Homo sapiens: one gene and its partners. The protein of the gene in region 1 purifies or fractionates together with the protein of each later gene. This does not show direct contact. Each region holds a gene or a part of one and is shown in the gene's direction. Other genes may lie near its edges. The genes, in order: MAP4K5, PIP, PCMT1, SNX9 and DBNL.

The links.
Region 2: the proteins of MAP4K5 (region 1) and PIP purify together in Homo sapiens (affinity purification with mass spectrometry, with the first as the bait; one study listed by BioGRID). This does not show direct contact.
Region 3: the proteins of MAP4K5 (region 1) and PCMT1 purify together in Homo sapiens (affinity purification with mass spectrometry, with the first as the bait; one study listed by BioGRID). This does not show direct contact.
Region 4: the proteins of MAP4K5 (region 1) and SNX9 purify together in Homo sapiens (affinity purification with mass spectrometry, with the first as the bait; one study listed by BioGRID). This does not show direct contact.
Region 5: the proteins of MAP4K5 (region 1) and DBNL purify together in Homo sapiens (affinity purification with mass spectrometry, with the first as the bait; one study listed by BioGRID). This does not show direct contact.

Annotation. Positions count from the first base shown.
Region 1 is NC_000014.9:50,525,713-50,529,636, reverse strand, and holds part of MAP4K5 (mitogen-activated protein kinase kinase kinase kinase 5), read left to right. Parts: intron 1-3,924. UniProt on the Homo sapiens protein: May play a role in the response to environmental stress. Appears to act upstream of the JUN N-terminal pathway.
Region 2 is NC_000007.14:143,137,315-143,140,320, forward strand, and holds the end of PIP (prolactin-inducible protein precursor), read left to right. Parts: intron 1-1,760; coding exon 1,761-1,875; intron 1,876-2,203; coding exon 2,204-2,328; 3' UTR 2,329-2,425; downstream 2,426-3,006.
Region 3 is NC_000006.12:149,787,502-149,791,425, forward strand, and holds part of PCMT1 (protein-L-isoaspartate(D-aspartate) O-methyltransferase), read left to right. Parts: intron 1-2,452; coding exon 2,453-2,557; intron 2,558-3,924. UniProt on the Homo sapiens protein: Initiates the repair of damaged proteins by catalyzing methyl esterification of L-isoaspartyl and D-aspartyl residues produced by spontaneous isomerization and racemization of L-aspartyl and L-asparaginyl residues in aging peptides and proteins.
Region 4 is NC_000006.12:157,906,599-157,910,522, forward strand, and holds part of SNX9 (sorting nexin-9), read left to right. Parts: intron 1-3,066; coding exon 3,067-3,192; intron 3,193-3,309; coding exon 3,310-3,427; intron 3,428-3,924. UniProt on the Homo sapiens protein: Involved in endocytosis and intracellular vesicle trafficking, both during interphase and at the end of mitosis. Required for efficient progress through mitosis and cytokinesis. Required for normal formation of the cleavage furrow at the end of mitosis.
Region 5 is NC_000007.14:44,061,278-44,065,201, forward strand, and holds part of DBNL (drebrin-like protein), read left to right. Parts: 3' UTR 1-1,486; coding exon of another isoform or gene 1,487-1,653; 3' UTR 1,654-3,554; coding exon of another isoform or gene 3,555-3,735; 3' UTR 3,736-3,838; coding exon of another isoform or gene 3,839-3,924. Other genes in the region: PGAM2 (phosphoglycerate mutase 2), read right to left, coding at 1,487-1,653, 3,555-3,735, 3,839-3,924. UniProt on the Homo sapiens protein: Adapter protein that binds F-actin and DNM1, and thereby plays a role in receptor-mediated endocytosis.

The DNA of each region.
Region 1 (3,924 bases):
TTGTTTATTATCTATCTTGATTCACTAAAATACTCCATGATGGCAGGGATTTTAATCTCTTCACTGCTCTGTCTCTGATTATGCCTGCCACAGAGTAAGTACTTCCTAAAAATTTGATGAATGAATGAATGAATGAATATCAGACTCTGTCACTTAGTTCTCTGAGCACATGCTTTTGACATCATAGCACTAAGTTAGCATTTAATACTCTATGTATTCCTGTAATGCCTTCTGTTTGTCTGTTTGTTTGGATACAGGATGTCGCTCTGTCCCCCAGGCTAGAGGGCAGTGGTGTGATCTTGGTTCATTGAAGCCTCAACCTCCCGGGCTGAAGTGATCCTCCCACCTCAGCCCCCCAAGTAGCTGGCACTACAGGTGTGTGCCACCATGTCTGGCTAATTTTTGTATTTTTTTTTAGTAGAGAGGAGGTCTTGCCATGTTTCCCAGTCTGGTCTCGAACTCCTGAGCTTAAATGATCTGCCTGCCTCGGCCTCCCAAAGTATTGAAATTACAGGCATGAGCCACCACATCCGGCCCTGTGATGCTGTCTAATGATACCCTGCGTGTGTATTTTTATTACAAATTTCATCTATTTGAGTTCTCTGGGGAAATATTTCTGAAAAACTATTTTATAGTATATCCACTATCAGTGATCTAAGTCCTATAGAATTTTGTCAGTTTAAATTTACTCCTTAGTATGCCTAAAAACACATAACCTGAAACTGTAGTGCTGAATTTTTTAAGCTCTGGGCAATTAGAGTAATTTTGCTATTTATCACTGTGTTTCTGATGAGCTGAACATCCTAGGACGTTTTAGAAGTATTTTCAATGTAGGATATAAACTAGTGAAATACCTGCAGTAAAGAATAATGAAGGTAAATTAGCCACTGTTCTACTCAGATAATATCCCCCTGTGTTTTTGAGAGATGGTCTTGTGCTTTAGGCTGGAGTCCAGTGGCACGATCAGCTCACTGCAGCCTTGAACTCCTGGGCTTAAGGGATTCTCTCTCCTCAGCCTCCTCAGTAGCTGGGACTACAAGTGTGTGTGGCAACATGCCTGGCTAATTTTTTTTTTTTTTAATGTAAAGACAGGGTCTTCCTGTGTTGCCCAAGCTAGTCTCAAATTCTTGACCCCATGTGATGCTTCTGCCTCAGTCTCCCAAAGGGCTGGGATTAATAGGTGTGAGCCACCAAGCCTGGATTTTTCCCTGCCTTTTTTTTTTTTTTTTTTTTTACACCTTAGGTATCTTTTGAAGCAGAAGCTTTAAAGGACTCTGGCTTTGAGATTCTTCGTAATTTACTTTTATGTTCATCAATACCACAGATCCCCTCTGAAGCTTCCATCTTTCCTGAGAATCCCCAAGAGGGAGAGTTCAATCTTATATTGGCTGTTCTTTGGTTGAAAGAAGAGGAGGAACATAAAGATTCTTTTAGATAAATGGAGTGAATCATTGAGGGCAAGAGCAGGAAATGGTAGAGGGAAAAGAAACACAGAAGAGAAAAGGAATTTGGTGGATGGTGGATGAAGGATTAAATGTCAACTGAGCAGCTTTTATTTGTAATTACTGTAAAAATGTAGATCTGCCAGCAGGAAGGATAAATCTGGAGATTTAGATTCTCAACTACCTCTGACCACAAGGATCTATAACAACTACAGCATCATGATACAGTTCATAATCAGTAGTACAAGCCATTTGGGCAGCCCTTATCCAAATATTTGTATCAAAATTGCTTCCAGCCTAGATTTCAGAGAAGTTCTGGCAATCTGGCTTTTTATTTTTATTTTTATTTATTTATTTATTATTATTATTATTATTATTTTACCTTTCATAGAATATAAATTTAGACTGGGCAATCCTATGAATTTTTTTCTAAGCTTTATTGCTTTATCTGATTGATTATAGAAGAATAACATGTTTAGTTCCCAGGGGACAGAAACAGATGTCTCTTGCACATCTTTGTAATGTAACAAACAAATGCTCAATAAATATTTGTTGAACAAATTAGTTGTAGAAAATTACTCAGAGATAGGTACTGCTAATAATTTAATACAGTTTATTTCAGGCTTATTTCCTAAATGTTTTTAAATCAGTATTTCCAAAATGGCTTTTATATTTAATTTATGATTGGGAATATGATACAGGTCTTTTTTCTGTTTGATTGAAATGACCAGCATTTTCCCTAGTCGTTAAATATTCTACAAAAGTACATTTTTTTTTTTTTTTGGATGACAGGGTCTTGCTCTTTTGCCCAGGCTAGAGTGCAGTGGTGTAATCATACAAAAGTACTTTTTTTTTTGAGACGGAGTCTTGCAGTGTCGCCAGGCTGGAGTGCGGTGGCGCAATCTCAGCTTACTGCAACCTCCTGACTCCCTGGTTCAGGTGATTCTCCTGCCTCAGCCTCCTGAGTAGCTGGGATTACAGGCATGTGCCACCACACTCAGCTAATTTTTGTATTTCTAGTAGAGACGGGGTTTCACCAGGTTGACTAGGATGGTCTCAATCTCCTGACCTCGTGATCTGCCCACCTTGGCCTCCCAAAGTGCTGGAATTACAGGGTGAGCCACCACACCCAGTCAAAAGTACTATTTTTAAAGGATCCGTTGAATGAGCCTTCATTTAGTTAATCATTCTAAGTTGCATATTTGTTATTTCTAGTTTTTAAACTTTTTTTTTTGCAATTATAAATGATGTTATAATTTGCGTAGAAGTCTTTGTCATGTAGTCTTATCACTAACGTGGGTTCCTCTGGATGCTAGATGAATTAGGTCTGCTATGGGGAATCTCCTTTATGTATGCCTTTACTTTCTTTTCCTCCAGCCAAGAGTCACCATTCTGGAATGGCTTTAGGCACTTTGAAACATATCCCAAGATCCCATTTTATAGAGACAAAGCTTAATGTATCATCACACTTCTAGAAGCATTCATTCATTAAAGAAGTATTTGTTGAGTGCTGACAATGTGTTAGGATATGGGGATGCAAACATGAGATGAAGTACACTGTCAATAAGGAACATATGGTTTAGTCAAGAAAACAGACGTGGCCAGGCGCAGTGGCTCACGCCTGTAATCCTAGCACTTTGGGAGGCCAAGGCTGGTGGATCACCTGAGGTCAGCAGTTTGAGACCAGCCTGGCCAACATGGCAAAACCCCATCTCTATTAAAAATACAAAAATTAGCCGGGCATGGTGGCAGGTGCCTATAATCCCAGCTACTTGGGAGAGGCAAGAGAATTGGTTGAACCCGGGGGTCGGAGGTTGCAGTGAGCTGAGATTGCGCCACTTCACTCCAGCCTGGGCAACAAAAGCAAAACTCCATCTCAAAAAAGAAAAAAGAAAGCAGACATGTAAGCAGTCATAATTTGGTAGAAAATTATGTGCCATAGAGGAGAAGTGGAAGAAATGCCAAACTCTGCCTTTATTGGGGATGAAGGAAGGGAGAGAGAGGAGTGTGAACCAAGGAAGATTAACAGAGGAAGGAACATTAACTGGATTTTTAAAAGAAGACCAGTGGTTTCTAGGTAGAGAAGATAGGAAAAGATATTCCAGGCTTTGGGTATAGTATGTGCAAACACCTGGAGGCTTGAGAAGCCGTGATGAGTTTTGAGAGATCTGCATCTGTATTCATTCCAGGTTCAGTGTGACATCTGGCAGAGATGTCATTTCAATTATTTATTTTTATTATTTTATAGATGGAGAATAGAGGCTATTTTCTGGCAGGAAACACCAGCTAATGGACTCCATGTGTCATATCAAAGAATTTGGACCTTTTCAATTATTTATTTTTATTTTTTTGAGACAGGGTCTTACTTTTTCACTTAGGCTGCAGTGTAGTGGCATGATCTCAGCTCACTAGACCCTCCGCCTCCCAGGCTCAAGTGATCCTCCCACTTCAGCCTCCTGAGTAGCTGGGACTGGCACACACT
Region 2 (3,006 bases), on another chromosome or scaffold:
TGACTAACTTGTAAAAAATAAATTTGTGATGCAGTAAGGTATGTGTTTCTTTATGCACACATTAGCTGGGAAAGCAATACATTTAAAATATAGAAGAGTTGAATTTTATTCTATGAACACATTATCTGTGTGATGGATGTTGTTACTTAGCTTGAAGAAGTACATTAAACTGCACTGGTCTTTGGCAACACGTCCCACGTGCCATGCTAGGCATGCAACGGATTCTGATCTTTTATTGTACAAGTGGTGTAAATTCTGATTCATGACGATATGTTGTTGCTAATGTAACAGAAAGGTAAACAAGGCCGGGCACAGTGGCTTGTGCCTGTAATCCCAGCACTTTGGGAGGCCAAAGTGGGCAGATCACCTGAGGTCAGGAGTTCGAGACCAGCTTGGCCAACATGGTGAAACCCTGTCTCTACTAAAAATACAAAAATTAGCCAGGGCTGGTAGCACGCACCTGTAATCCCAGCTACTCAGGAGGCTGAGGCAGAAGAATCACTTGAACCTGGGAGGCGGAGGTTGCAGTGAGCCACGTTCGCACCATTGCACTCCAGCCTGGGCAACAGAGTGAGACTCTGTCTCTTAGAAAAAAAAAAAAAAGGGAAACAAGGCACAGGTAGTCTTCTCCAAAGAAACGCCAGGATTCTCCAAGGCATTCTGAGTAAAACTCCAAGGGTGAGAACACCTGAATTTACTGTTTAGGTCTGAACGGCTACTTGATGCTGAGTTGCCAGGTAGCTGAGCAAGCTGCAGGAGGTGGGCAGAATGGCACTGGGCCTCAGTCGTGACCATGAGCCAGTCTGATAACTGCCATACATTCAAGGTAGTACATTCAGGCTGTATTTCGGACCTCTGGATCCGTGCAATGATATGTACATATCTACTTTTCTCCTTGTGATAAAATCACACATACTGCTAATGGCACTGTGGTTCCTTGATGACATTCATAACAGAAGGAATGCTGAATTTCAATTAGAGGTTAGTAATAAAGATGCATATTTTTCCCCTGCCTGAGTCCACAGACTCACTGAATGCTATCCACAGATCCCTCTGGGTCTATGGACCCCAGGATAAAACTGCTGTGTTAAACGTTAACTGGACAAAATCCTCTGACTCCACTGAAATTTATATATACAATAATCTGGGATCTTGAATTGCAAAGCACTCAAGTTAAAAAGAAATTTACATTCAAGATGTTATTTGCTTATCTAACAGCCAGGTTTGGTAGTTAATTGTTTCCACCTCATACCTGAGGAAAGTGAGAGTGAGAGGCCTCTCATCACCAAAGGTCACCAAGTCAGAGAGGAGCACAGATGGGGCTTGGTCACAGCTCTGACAACAAGGCCTGACATTGGCTCCTACACGCAAGTGGCCAGGCTGCTGTCTCACCAGGTCTCAGAGTAAACGTGATTGCAGGTCGATTCCTGAAACCTCTGGCTGGTGACTAAGGCAAGCCTGCTCCTCAGCTGGACAGCTGCCCTGGATGAGCTCTCCTTGCCCTGTGGATTCACTTGCATCCCTATCTCCTCCTGAGCTTCTCCACACTGCTAAGGCAGGAGTTTGAGGGCATTGGAAGGGAAAACCTTCTGACCTAGACTTTGGCTCCTGAAATGATACTACAACAGTAGACTCCCCCTTGCCCTAGGCCCACCTCCACCCCCACTCTTCTCCTCCGGCTTTTCCCTCTCCTATTTTTCCCTCCCTTACCCATTCCCCAAAATAACAATGAATTCCCCCTCCCACCTTCTCCTCACCAGGTTAAAACTTACCTCATTAGCAGCATCCCTCTACAAGGTGCATTTAACTATAAGTATACTGCCTGCCTATGTGACGACAATCCAAAAACCTTCTACTGGGACTTTTACACCAACAGTAAGTACAGAAGTTGTCCAAGGAGGGAACTACCCACCAGCCACCAGGGAGGAGAAACTATAAACAGAAACATGGCTGCGAACCGAGCAGGACCAGGACCTCAGGGCAGAAGGACAGAAGGGAGGGAGGGAAGAGCATGGGGAGAGCAGATGGGGAAAGCACCCAGGTTCTAAGACAGAGGCATTGAGTGCAAAAAGTTGATACAGGAGACAAATTTGCAAAGGATTTGGGGAAACTGAACCCCAGGGGGCAGATGCCTGATATGAGTAGAAAAGACAGGACATGGCCGGGGTGTCTGAGAGATGATCTCCGTCCCTGTCTTTTTCAGGAACTGTGCAAATTGCAGCCGTCGTTGATGTTATTCGGGAATTAGGCATCTGCCCTGATGATGCTGCTGTAATCCCCATCAAAAACAACCGGTTTTATACTATTGAAATCCTAAAGGTAGAATAATGGAAGCCCTGTCTGTTTGCCACACCCAGGTGATTTCCTCTAAAGAAACTTGGCTGGAATTTCTGCTGTGGTCTATAAAATAAACTTCTTAACATGCTTCTCCATGTTCTGTTGTATCTCCAAAATCTGCTCCTGAAGAACCCCAGATTACCTGAAATTTCTAGAACATTTGTCTTTCAAAGAACCTTTACTGAGGAGATTGTACGGGTTCTCACTGCCCATTGGTATGAAGAGGGAGAGAAGAAGAAACTGGGAAGAGGAGCTATGCTCACAGAGAGGAAAAGCAGTGGCCCTAAAGTTCACGGCACAGGAGTGGCAGAGCCAGGGCAGGCACCAAGCCTCCCTGTTGCTTGACCTCTCTCCATCCCACTGCCCTCCAGCAACAGCTCAGATCCCAGAAGACAGGAGTCCTGTTGCATGCAGCAGAGTCAGGGATGGAGTCCATGGCCCCCTAAATGAGCAGTAGCATTCTATGCTATTCTGTTGCTTGTTTTCAATGGATTGTGACACTCAGGGATATCAGGGTCCTGTGCAGCTCTGCCTGAGGAGCTCAGGCATAATAGAGGAGTAAAGGGGCAGAGGGAGCCCTGAGGGGCTTCATCCCAGAGGGCCAGCCCATAGAAGTGGAATATGAGCAAGGATCAGGTGCACGAAGTGGGCAGAGGGCATTCTAGTAGA
Region 3 (3,924 bases), on another chromosome or scaffold:
ATTACAGCCGCCACCACGCCCGGCTAATTTTTTGTATTTTTAGCAGAGACAGGGTTTCATCATGTTGGGCAGGCTGGTCTTGAACTCCTGACCTTAGGTCATCTGCCCGCCTCGGCCTCTCAAAGTGCTGGGATTACAGGTGTGAGCCACCATGCCCGGCCCAAATGTTTTTAAATCTTTGACATAATTTCTGACTTACAGAAATATTATGCAGATAGTACAGTTCCTGTGTACTTTTGTCCACACAGTCTTACCATTGGTAAAGCAAATCTCACCATTTGCTTTATCATTTATTCTCTCTCCCTTTATCCCCTCTCTCCTCTGTGTGTGTGTGTGTGTGTGTATGTGTGTGTATTATATTTCCGTTTTTCTGAGCTCTTTGAGGGTAAATTACAGGCATAATGCTCTTTACCTTTAACTTTTTTTGAGATGGAGTCTTGCTCTGTCGCCCAGGCTGGGGTGCAGTGGTGCAGTGGCACGTTCTCAGCTCACTGCAAGCTCCGCCTCTCGGGTTCACGCCATTGTCCTGCCTCAGCCTCCCAAGTAACTGGGACTACAGGCGCCCACCACCACGCCCAGCTAATTTTTTGTATTTTTAGTAGAGATGGGGTTTTACTGTGTTAGCCAGGATGGTCTCGATCTCCTGACCTCGTGATCCGCCTCGGCCTCCCAAAGTGCTGGGATTACAGGTGTGAGCCACTGTGCCCGGCCAATGCTCTTTACCTTTAAAAATAAGGACATTCTCTTACATACCCATAGTACAATTTTTGAAATCTGGAAGTCAGCATTGATATAACACTATTAGCCAATTTATAGACCTTATTCAGATTTCATCAATTATTCTGATAATATTCCTTATAGGAAAAGAAAATAGTAGATTGTGAGTTTTATTTGATTGTCATGTCTTTTTAGTTTCCTTTAAAGAATGACTGAGAAATGGTTCCTTATTCTTTTATGACCTTGAAAACCTTGAAAATTTTTACGAATATGGGCCATTTATTTTGTATAATGTCCCTCAATTTGGGTTTGTTTGATGTTTCCTCATAATTCAATATAGGTTATGCATTTTTGCCTGGCATATCCCAGAAATGAAGTATCTTAGCAGAGGCATTTGATGTCAGTGTGTCCCATAATTGTGGTGTTAACTTTGATCATCTGATTAAGGTAGTGTTGACCCAGTTTTTCCACTGGAGAACTTTTTTCTGAACTCCATTGTAAAATTACTATTTTTCCTTTTGTGATTAATAATTATCTGGGGCAAACCCTTTGAGATTATGTAAATATCCTGTTTATTTTTCAAATGTTAGTCCACTAGTTTTAGCTTCCATTTATGATTTTTACCTGAATCAATCAGTTATTATTGAGATGGCTGCCCAAAGGCTGATTTTCTTAATTTTTTCTATGTGCATTCATTATGTATCTATATATTTGTTGGGAACGGTTTTCCCTATTTTTCATTTATATATGTATAGAATGATGTATTAATTTATCACTATAGATTAATGGATGGGTATTTTTATCAACCAAGATCTGGTAGTAAATGTGTTTACTGCTATTGGATCTGATTTTTTTTTTTTTTTTTTTTTTTTTGAGATGGAGTCTCGCTCTGTTACAGCCCAGGCTGGAGTGCAGTGGCATGATCTCGGATCACTGCAATCTCCCCGTCCCGGGTTCAAGCAGTTCTCTGCCTCAGCCTCCCGAGTAGCTGGGATTACAGGTGGCTGCCACCATGCCCAGCTAATTTTCTTGTATTTTTAGTAGAGATGGAGTTTCACCATCTTAGCCAGACTGGTCTTGAACTCCTGACCTCGTGATCTACCTGCCTCAGCCTCCCAAAGTGCTGGAATGTCAGGCCTGAGCCACCACGCCCAGCCTGATCTGATTATTTTTAATAATGAGAATACTGGCTGGGTGTGGTGGCTTATGTATGTCATCCCAGCACTTTGGGAGGCCGAGGTGGGCGGATCACCTGAGGTCGAGAGTTCGAGACCAGCCTGACCAACATGGAGAAACCTCATCTCTATTAAAAATACAAAATTAGCCTTTGTATTTTTGTATTTGCTTATATATGCAAAGAATCTATTCCTTCCTTTTTGGAAGGAGTCACAAGAAACTAGTAATATTGGTTACCTTTACAGAGTGAAACCTGGATGGTTGGAAATGGGAGTAGGGTGGAGACTTTTCACTTATAAATCTTTTAATTTTTTTACTGAATTAATTAAAAGTTAAAAATTCACACACTGGAGGTCTAAAATTACTGAAACACATGATCTGAATGTAAGAATTCTAATCAAACAGTTTACTTAAGTAATACCTGGGCAGATAGCCAAGATAACTTGGTTATCTTGGTAGATGACAATAGTAGAAAAATTGGTAGAAAGTTGGCAACTTTATTTATATACCATGATGTGTGTACTTTAGTCTTAATGAATATTTTGTTTTCTTTTGGCAGCATGCATATGCGCTAGAACTTCTATTTGATCAGTTGCATGAAGGAGCTAAAGCTCTTGATGTAGGATCTGGAAGTGGAATCCTTACTGCATGTTTTGCACGTATGGTAAGAGTTTTATTTCTCACTCTGGCCCCAACAGAAGAATATTATATGATTTGGCTGTATGTTTTTTTAACTAGTGGTTTTCATGTTTATTTGTTTGTTAATTCTATTAGGATAGCAGTTGGAATGAGCATCACTTAGGATTTTGTTGTTGTTGCAAGTGACAGAACATGCAACCCAAACTGGCAGAGCTAAAAGGGAGTTTATTTAGTTCATATAACAGAAAAGTCTAGGGGTGTATACGGTCTGTTGTGTGGCTGGATTTAGAAGAGCAGATGTTGTTATTGACGATAGGGTTCTCTCTGTTTCTTGATTTGGCTTTACTTTCCTCCACATGTTGGTGTCATTATCCGGTAAGCTCTACCCTTGTAATCACAAGATGGTGGCCAGTAGCTCCCAAACTACCTTCTTCCAAGTTCTGATTTGGCAGAAAAGAATAGAATAAGCCTGGTTTTCTTTTCTTTTTTTTTTTTTTTTCTTCTTAAAAACAGAGGTTTTATTGCATTTGGTCCACAGTTGGTATTTCACCTTATCTCATGGTGCAGGGACCCTGGGTAGGGGACTCTCTACAGTACTTGGTGGGGCATGTGGCTGGGGGAGACAGAGCAGTATAGCTGGTCAGGCCCAGAAGGGGAGAAGGAAGGCTGGAGGCTCCTTAAAACCTACTGAGGGACCAGACGCGGTGGCTCACACCTATAATCCCAGCACTTTGGGAGGCTTAGGCAGGCAGATCACATGAGGCCAGGAGTTCGAGACCAGCCTGGCCAACGTGGTGAAACCCCATCTCTACTAAAAATAGAAAAATTAGCCAGGCATGGTGGAGCACCTGCAGTCCCAGCTATTCAGGAGGCTGAGGCAGGAAAATCCCTTGAGCCCAGGAGGTGGAGGTGCAGTAAGCCTTGATTGCACCACTGCACTCCAGCCTGGGCAACAACAACAACAACAAAAACCTACTGAGGCACAGTGTGGGGGGTGGGCTTAGCATGGAGAGGGGGTCAGGCTTAGCCCCGACAACTCAGAATTCTACTTCCTTGTACAGGCCTCAGTTTCCCCACCGGGCCCTGGGACATGTCTGAGGGTCCCAGGGAAATCCAGTCACTCAGGAGCCTGAGATATTTAGCATCGTAGCTGGGCCCCGTCTCCCAGGGGACTCATTTCCCAGCACCCTCTCCACTGTCCCTGCCCAGAATGAGCCTGGTTTCTAAACATTCCTGCAGATTTACCAGGATGAAGGTAAAACTTCTGCATTAGAAAAAGTGCTCTTAGAAAAATAATGCCTTGTTATACTTCTGCCTTTTCTCATCAGAGTCTTATCTGGTCAATGGCTATCCAGAGTATTAACTGGGGACCCACTAATATATGTTGGAGTA
Region 4 (3,924 bases), on another chromosome or scaffold:
TTCAGATATATGGGTAATAGTGTTTTTGGTAATAGTGTTTTTTCCAGTAAACCAGCTGTCAAATTGAGATAAGGAGCTACCAAATGGAAGCTGGGAGTTAAAGACATCATTGAGAATATCTGTCTTAGAATTACTTGGTTATTGCATAATGTGACACAAGCCCTTCGGTTTCATTCCACATTTTGATTGGTGGTAGATTTTCTGTCTAGGTGATATTTAGTTGTAGATTCCCAAATGAAATTCTGGAAAAGAGAACTGTAGCTATCTTCTGATCCTATTGACTTAACCCTGTAACAATTAGATTGGGAACCTGAAGCCTTGAGTGTTCTCATCCTGGACTCAATCGAGGATGAGGAAACATCTGGTCTTATTCTGTAGTCTTTGGAAACTTGATAAAATTGCAGGAATAGTATTAGATTCTCTAATTACTTGTGCCTGCATGTTTGAAAAACTCCAAATCCTGGAAGCCTCCAAGCTGAAGAGCTGTAACCAAGAGCCCTTTTTATGCTTTTTCCCTCAAAGCAAATTTGGGATAATTAACTTCTGAGTAGTTATATTAAAGATTTTTTTTTCCTGTTTTCTCTGGACTTAATAAAAATTGAACATGTACCATTATTCTTTTCATGACATTTAAAACTCCTCAAAATCAAGAGCGCACAGCTCTGCCTCAGTTTTGTTTTTTTGTTTGTTTGTTTGTTTTTAAGACAGAGTCTCACTCTGTCACCCAGGCTGGAGTGCAGTGGTGTGATCTTGGCTCACTGCAACCTCTGCCTCCCGGGTTCAAGCAATTCTCCTGCCTCAGCCTCCCGAGTAGCTGGGATTACAGGCATGCACCACCACGCCTAGCTAATTTTTTTTGTATTTTATAGTAGAGACGGGGTTTCACCATATTGGCCAGGCTGGTCTTGAACTCCTGACCTTGTGATCCGCCCACATTGGCCTCCCAAAGTGCTGGGATTACAGGTATGAGCCACTGCGCCCGGCCTGCCTCACATTCTTAAAGGGGACTTTGTCCCAGGTTTGCAGTGGTGGTACAGAGCTAAGGGTTCCAGCCTTTCATTGACCGGCAAGTTTTAAGTAGAACTGCACCCATGCACCCAGTAGGCAGGTCTGCCTGTGTGGGCGTCTATACATGGAAGAAGCTGAGGAAAGCCACCGCGTCTTCAGGAGGCCCAGAGAAAGCAGAGACTAACTCTTTGCTCTAAAAGTGCAGTAACCTTGCCCACTCATGAAACAGAGCCCCGTGAAATTGGGCCTTAGCCAAGCACAGTTGCTGCTCTCGGCCCACTCACTGAGGGAGGTCCCGAAAGTCATCTCCTCTGCAGCTTTCAGCTAGTTTCTTGGATCTGGGCTCTCCCTGAGGGGGTTATAGTAATTGTTCTCAGAGATTTTAGTCTCTTTTTAAACTACTCTTATCCTTGGAGTAGGTCACCTTCCTGACCTAACAGCCTCTGAACTTTAATATCCCAATCCGCTTTTCCCATCTTCCTCTTAAAAAAAAAAATTAGGACTGGGTATACCTTTTTTTCCTTTTTATGTCTGTCTGGCCTTGCCTCTCTGAGGTCTCAGCCGAAACAAATCTCTCTTCCTTCAGCGCAATCTGTGTGATTTTTCTCATTTTCTTTTTACTTTCTTATGGTACTTTTTCAAGTCTGCAAGAATAAAACCTGTTCCATAAATTATTTCATTCTCCTTGAATCTCTGAATGAATCTCTGAGTGAATCTGCTTCCTGAATAGTGGTCCTTTTACAGTCCATGTGTTTGTTTTTTCATTCTCTTCTTGGATTATAACTCAATTATTTTTCATTTTCAAGCCAAGAAGATAGATAACATTCTCAGTATAATAAGGACTTCTATTGCTCTGAAATGTGTTTTGATAAGAGCTACTGTCCTGCAGTCTGAACCTCTAGAATCTGTCATTGTGATCAAAGTTTATGAAATGAATGAGGCAGAACCAACTTGAGACTATTGGTGACTCAGGTAGTGATTCCAGAAGCCTGTACATGAGCTCCAGCATCCAGGTTCCTCTGCAGCTGCCCCCATGGCCTTGGATGCTGTTTTAAATAAGATGAAAAAACCAGGTTTGGGACAGCAGACCTATTGTCACCTAGCAGTGCCTAGAAGAAATGATCCTCAGGCTCAAAACTTACACGAGGTCTCTACACCCCCACATAGAATTTAGCTGGTTTCCCTTCCTCACCTCCCACCACAACTAAAACCCCAGTGAGCTAGTGTAAGCCTCGCCTGAATTTGTGAACTTTTGCCCTAGTCACAGATAGAAGAGAAGGCCAGTGAGAAAAGAATGGAGGCCTACCCTCTTCAGGCAAGCCTTGCCCAGGTGGACGTGATACCCGGGGGTTGGAAGTGAGCCAGCCCACTGTGCTTAGGCACATAGCAGTCCACGGAAGAAAACAGCTAGCCTGGTTCTTGCTTTTAAGATGTAGTACCTCCCCCTCCCCCCACCTTGCCACTAGTAGTAAAACAATGACTATCAGGCTCTGGCCAATCTGATTAATCGTTTCTATGAGCCAGAACAATGCTACTCAAAGTATGGTCCACAGACCACTTGCCCATCTGAAAACTGCTTGTTCCTGATCCACCGTGAGATAGGTACAGTACATGAGAATATTTTGAAAACTTGAGGACAATTTGGTATTGTTGAAAAATCAAAATGTGTAATGTTATATTTCACCAAACTATTAGTCTGTGATAGATTCGAAATTTTTAAAAACTAGTCCTTCATCACGTGTAGCTTGAGACAGCTAGACTAGAAAGAAACATTGTCTTGTAACCAGCACTGTCCTTGGGAGAGGGAAGCTGGTGTCTCCTCTCCATGGGCTGAGCTACTCACGTGGGAGCAGAAGGGTTTCCCACAGGTGTGTTCTTTAAACATAATATCTAACAGGAACAGAAACCATTGAACCATTTATGTACCTTTCAAAGAGGAACAAGAATGACCCTCCAAAGGACTTCTCATTCTGAAAAGAATTACTTGCTGATTCACATCAATTGTATTTATTATTTTTCCATGTAACAAAATTACTTCTTTCTGGAACATTGGCATAGGTTGGAGATTATGGCCCAATGTGGGTTTATCCTACCTCTACTTTTGACTGTGTGGTAGCAGATCCCAGGAAAGGCTCCAAAATGTATGGTCTAAAGAGCTACATCGAATATCAGCTAACACCTACTGTAAGTATCCACGTTATCAAAAGCAGAATCATGTTTGGATCACTGATTGCAGCTTGCTTTTTTCTTCATTTTCTAGAGTTGGCATTGGTAACCTTTTCTCTTTCCCTTATTTTGTAGAACACTAATCGATCTGTAAACCACAGGTATAAGCACTTTGACTGGTTATATGAGCGTCTCCTGGTTAAGTTTGGGTCAGCCATTCCAATCCCTTCTCTTCCAGACAAACAAGTCACAGGTGAGTGTGTGTAATGCTAAACCCAGGATGACAAATAGAAAGACTCCAGTCAGATTATCTTCCTGTAAGTCAGTGATGGCATTTTCCATCCTGTAGAGCAGCAGGATGCAGGAGTTGGAAACAGTAATTAAATACAGCTATGAAGAGAGAACCATTGCATGTTGTACATCTATCTGGAAGTTGCCTAAACGTCTCACAAGAACGTTTAATGTGCAAATCACAGGTTTTGGTATGTGTCTGGAATTCCAGCAGTCATTGTCTTCATTGCTGTACCTTTTCTACAAAAGAAATGTGTACATTTAAAATATGTGAAAAATGACACCTGAAAAAATAGAAATAATTCAAATAGCCTAAAATGGAAATAAAAATGTATGACCCACATGATGCAAACAGGTTATGCAGATGAGCTGCATTATTTCATTAGATGAGTGAGCACTGGACAGAGAAGCCACAGAACTACTAAGTGTTAATGAAGGAAGAAGCTGCCAGGTTTTCTA
Region 5 (3,924 bases), on another chromosome or scaffold:
GCCTTTTTTCTTTTTCTCTTGCTTCTAAGGGGTGGTGGCCACCACTGTTTAGAATGACCCTTGGGAACAGTGAACGTAGAGAATTGTTTTTAGCAGAGTTTGTGACCAAAGTCAGAGTGGATCATGGTGGTTTGGCAGCAGGGAATTTGTCTTGTTGGAGCCTGCTCTGTGCTCCCCACTCCATTTCTCTGTCCCTCTGCCTGGGCTATGGGAAGTGGGGATGCAGATGGCCAAGCTCCCACCCTGGGTATTCAAAAACGGCAGACACAACATGTTCCTCCACGCGGCTCACTCGATGCCTGCAGGCCCCAGTGTGTGCCTCAACTGATTCTGACTTCAGGAAAAGTAACACAGAGTGGCCTTGGCCTGTTGTCTTCCCCTATTTTCTGTCCCAGCTCATCCGTGTCTCTGAAGAACAAATATGCTTTTGGACCACGAATTCCCAGTTTGGTCTACACAGGCTCGCAGCTCTCACCTGTCCTGCTGTAGCCTGAATGCTCCCATGTGGGAATAGCACCCCACCACCTGCCCAGTGTCTGCCTCTGCTCCGTGTCTGGGGTGAGCACCCTCACCCTGAGACTGTGGCTGATGATGATCAGCCACCAGGAAGAGGCTAAATGTTAAGATGGGACTGAAGTTGGAGCCTTCCTGCGTTCCAGTTCCTCTAGGAGAGGCCAAGGGCTGCCCTGCTCCCAGCTTCAGGGAGCCTCTGCCTACATGGGATGGCCCACTGTGTGGCGTCAGGTACCTGGCACCCACTGAGCATCCGGGGAATTAGGTCCCTCCTGTGCCCCAGAGCTGCTAGGCAGACTGCTAGGCGGTTGACTCAAGGTGTTACCTGCTAGTGCCTGGGGTGAAGGCTGCATGGAGCCCAACCTTGCTCCTGGCCTTCCTGTGCTCAGGCCTCTCCCCTTTTCGCCAGGGCTTCCTGGTGCCTCTCCCATGAAGAGGGAACTTCCCCTCCACTCCCATGGAAGACCCAGGTTTGGGCTGTTGCCAGCTTTGAGGCCCCCTGTGGGCTTGCCTGTCCCAACCCAAGAGGCAGGGCTCAAAGTGCCACCCGGGGGTTGCAAGGACAGCAGAGGACCACCTGCCCTCTGCAGGAAGCTGTCCAGGAAGCCGTGTCCTGGGCTGTGGTCCTTGCTCCCCATGGGGAGAGCTGGGTCACTTGGCCTCTTCTAACTGGCCCCAAGCACGCCAATTCTGGAGCATGGTTACTAAGTGGCTCTGAAGCTTCAGGGTCACCACAGGCTTGTCCTGACTGCAAACTCATGGAGTGGTTGCAGCCCTGGCTCAGTGTCCTGATGACTAGGTGTGGGTACTAGGCTCCTGCCCCTGGTGACACACGTATGGAGTGGGGGAGGGTGGGTGGCTGCACCCCTGGTTCTGGAGTCCCCACAGCTGATGGCGGTGTGAGCCTGGCATGCACGGCTGCGCTGGACTCCAGGCTGTTGGGGGAGGTGCCTTTATTGCCCAAGCCCACCCCTCACTTGGCCTTGCCCTGGGCAGCCACAGCCTCCATGGCCTTCCGCACCGTTTCCTCATCACCCAGGAACTGCATGGGCTTGGTGGGCTTCAGCTCCTTGTTCAGCTCATACACAATGGGGATCCCCGTGGGCAGGTTCAGCTCCATGATCGCCTGGTCTGACATCCCTATGCCGGAAGGAATAGGTGTCCTTAGCCCCTCTGTCCCCAGCCTGTTTACACAGCAGACACTATGTGACCTTTATGGTCCACAGAGCCAGTTCCCCTGGCACCAATTCCTTCCCAGCCCTGAGAACGAGGCCACAGAAATGTTGCCAAAGGTCAAGGAGTAACTGAGTTAGACCAAGCAGCCTACAGAAATAGCCCAGTGGTGAAAAAAATGGGGACTTCAGCCCCACCCAAGTGGCTGTGATCTGTGGTGGTGCTGTCCATAGTTCCCTCAGCCCAGTGTGACTCCAGCCAGACTGAAGTTGAGGGTCAGGAAGGGACACTCACCCTTTGTTTTTTTTTTTTCTTTTCTTTTTCTTTTTCTTTTTTTTGAGATGGAGTTTTACTCCTCTTGCCCAGGCTGGAGTGCAGTGGCACGATCTTGGCTCACTGCAACCTCCATCTCCTGGGTTGAAGTGATTCTGCCTCAGCCTCCCAAGTAGCTGGGATTACAGGTGAGCGCCACCACACCCGGCTAATTTTGTATTTTTAGTAGAAACGGGTTTTACCATGTTGGTCAGGCTGGTCTCAAACTCCTGACCTCAGGTGATCTGCCTGCCTCAGCCTCCCAAAGTGCTGGGATTACAGGAGTGAGCCACCGTGCCCAGCACCCTTTGGTTTCTAAAGTGCTCTAAATTCTAGACATCCTGAACAGAGGAGCAAGTGCGGAATGGAGCTGGAGGAGGGACAGGGAGGCCGAGCCTGGTCGAAACCTGACCCTGCCTGCCTCCTGCAGCCCCTGAGCTGGGAATAGCAGCTCGACCTTTGATGTTCGCGCCACTCCACCCCTGCTCCGTGCAGGAGGGTTTAAGAAAATGTTCTCTGGGGAGTCAGAGTGAAATCCCTCATATTCACCACCAAAAGTGCGTCCCCTTTCCCCAAACCAGGCTGTGGGAGGGTCATGGGGCTGCATGAAGTCTCCGGAAGGGAGAGGAGGCAGGTGGTCCTTCCCTCTGCCTGGCCCCAGTGCCAGGTGCCAGGTGTCCGTGTTTGGAGCGGGCAGGCTTGGGGCTGGCTGGGTCTCCGGGGCCTGCCGGTCTGGGTGCTCTGGCCAACTGCCCAACGGCCCTAGGAGCAGGAGGTCTGGGGCACACCCTTCTAGCCTTTCCAGGACTCAACAAGCTTTAAGGTCATTCAGATGCTAATTTAGACTGCCCTTGTGTCAGAATACTAAGGTGGGAGGCGGAGCGGAGGTGCCAGTCACTCTGGGCGAGGCCTTACTGCGCCCATGCATCCCGGGCCCATTTGTCAGCCCTTGCTCTTCAGTGGGAGCCCAGCTGCAAGCCCAGAGTCTGGCCACTCCATAGTCCTGCACCCCTCTTTTGATTGGTCTTTCCTTTGCCCAGAGAGGGGCTCCAGAGGGAGATAGGTGGTGAAGCTCATGCAGGGATTCTGAGGACCTGATGGGGGAGGGCCCTGCGAGGGGTCCAAGCCTACATCAAGAGGAATTCAGTACCAGGGGGAGCTCCCCACCACCCCGGAAAAGGGAGAGGCCCAGAGATGGAGGTGGCTTGTCCAGGGCCCCACAGTAAGTTGGGATTTGGAGCCAGATGCTCTAAGCCCAGCCCTTCCGTTTCCTAGCTGGGTGTCCCTTGGCAGATGCCACCTTTGGAGCCTGCCCCACCTCGGGACACAGCGAGCTTCGAGTGCAGTCAGCCCCTGTGGAGTGTGTCCCAGTTACACAGAAATGGGGAAAATTTCACAAAACTAAAAAATGGCTTCTCAGCCCTCCTTTTTCAGTGAATGATGTGGAGCCCCACGCCTAGAAAGCCTGGTCCATGGGCGAGAGACTTTGCTGAGATGAGAAGCCAGCTGGGGCTGCTGCCCACCCACCCTGCCCAGGCTCCTGAAGGTGGCCTCACCTTCCAGGTGCTTGACAATGCCCCGCAGGCTGTTCCCGTGGGCTGCAATGAGCACTCGCTTGCCGGCCTTGATCTGGGGAACAATCTCCTCGTTCCAGAAGGGCAGGGCCCGGGCAATGGTGTCCTTGAGGCTCTCGCAGGTGGGGAGTTCCCCGGGCTTCAGGCCTGCGTACCGACGCTCCTGGGGGACACAGGCACGCTGCTTTCCCTCCCAAGCCAGTGGGCCCCCACCCGACTCCCCACTCTGCAGCTTCCCAGAGGCCTTCCCAGCAAAGGCAGCCCACCTTGCTAATGGAGTTGTAGTAGGGGTGCTTCTCGTCCATCGGGGGCGGCGGGATGTCGAAGGAGCGCCTCCAGATCTTCACCTGCT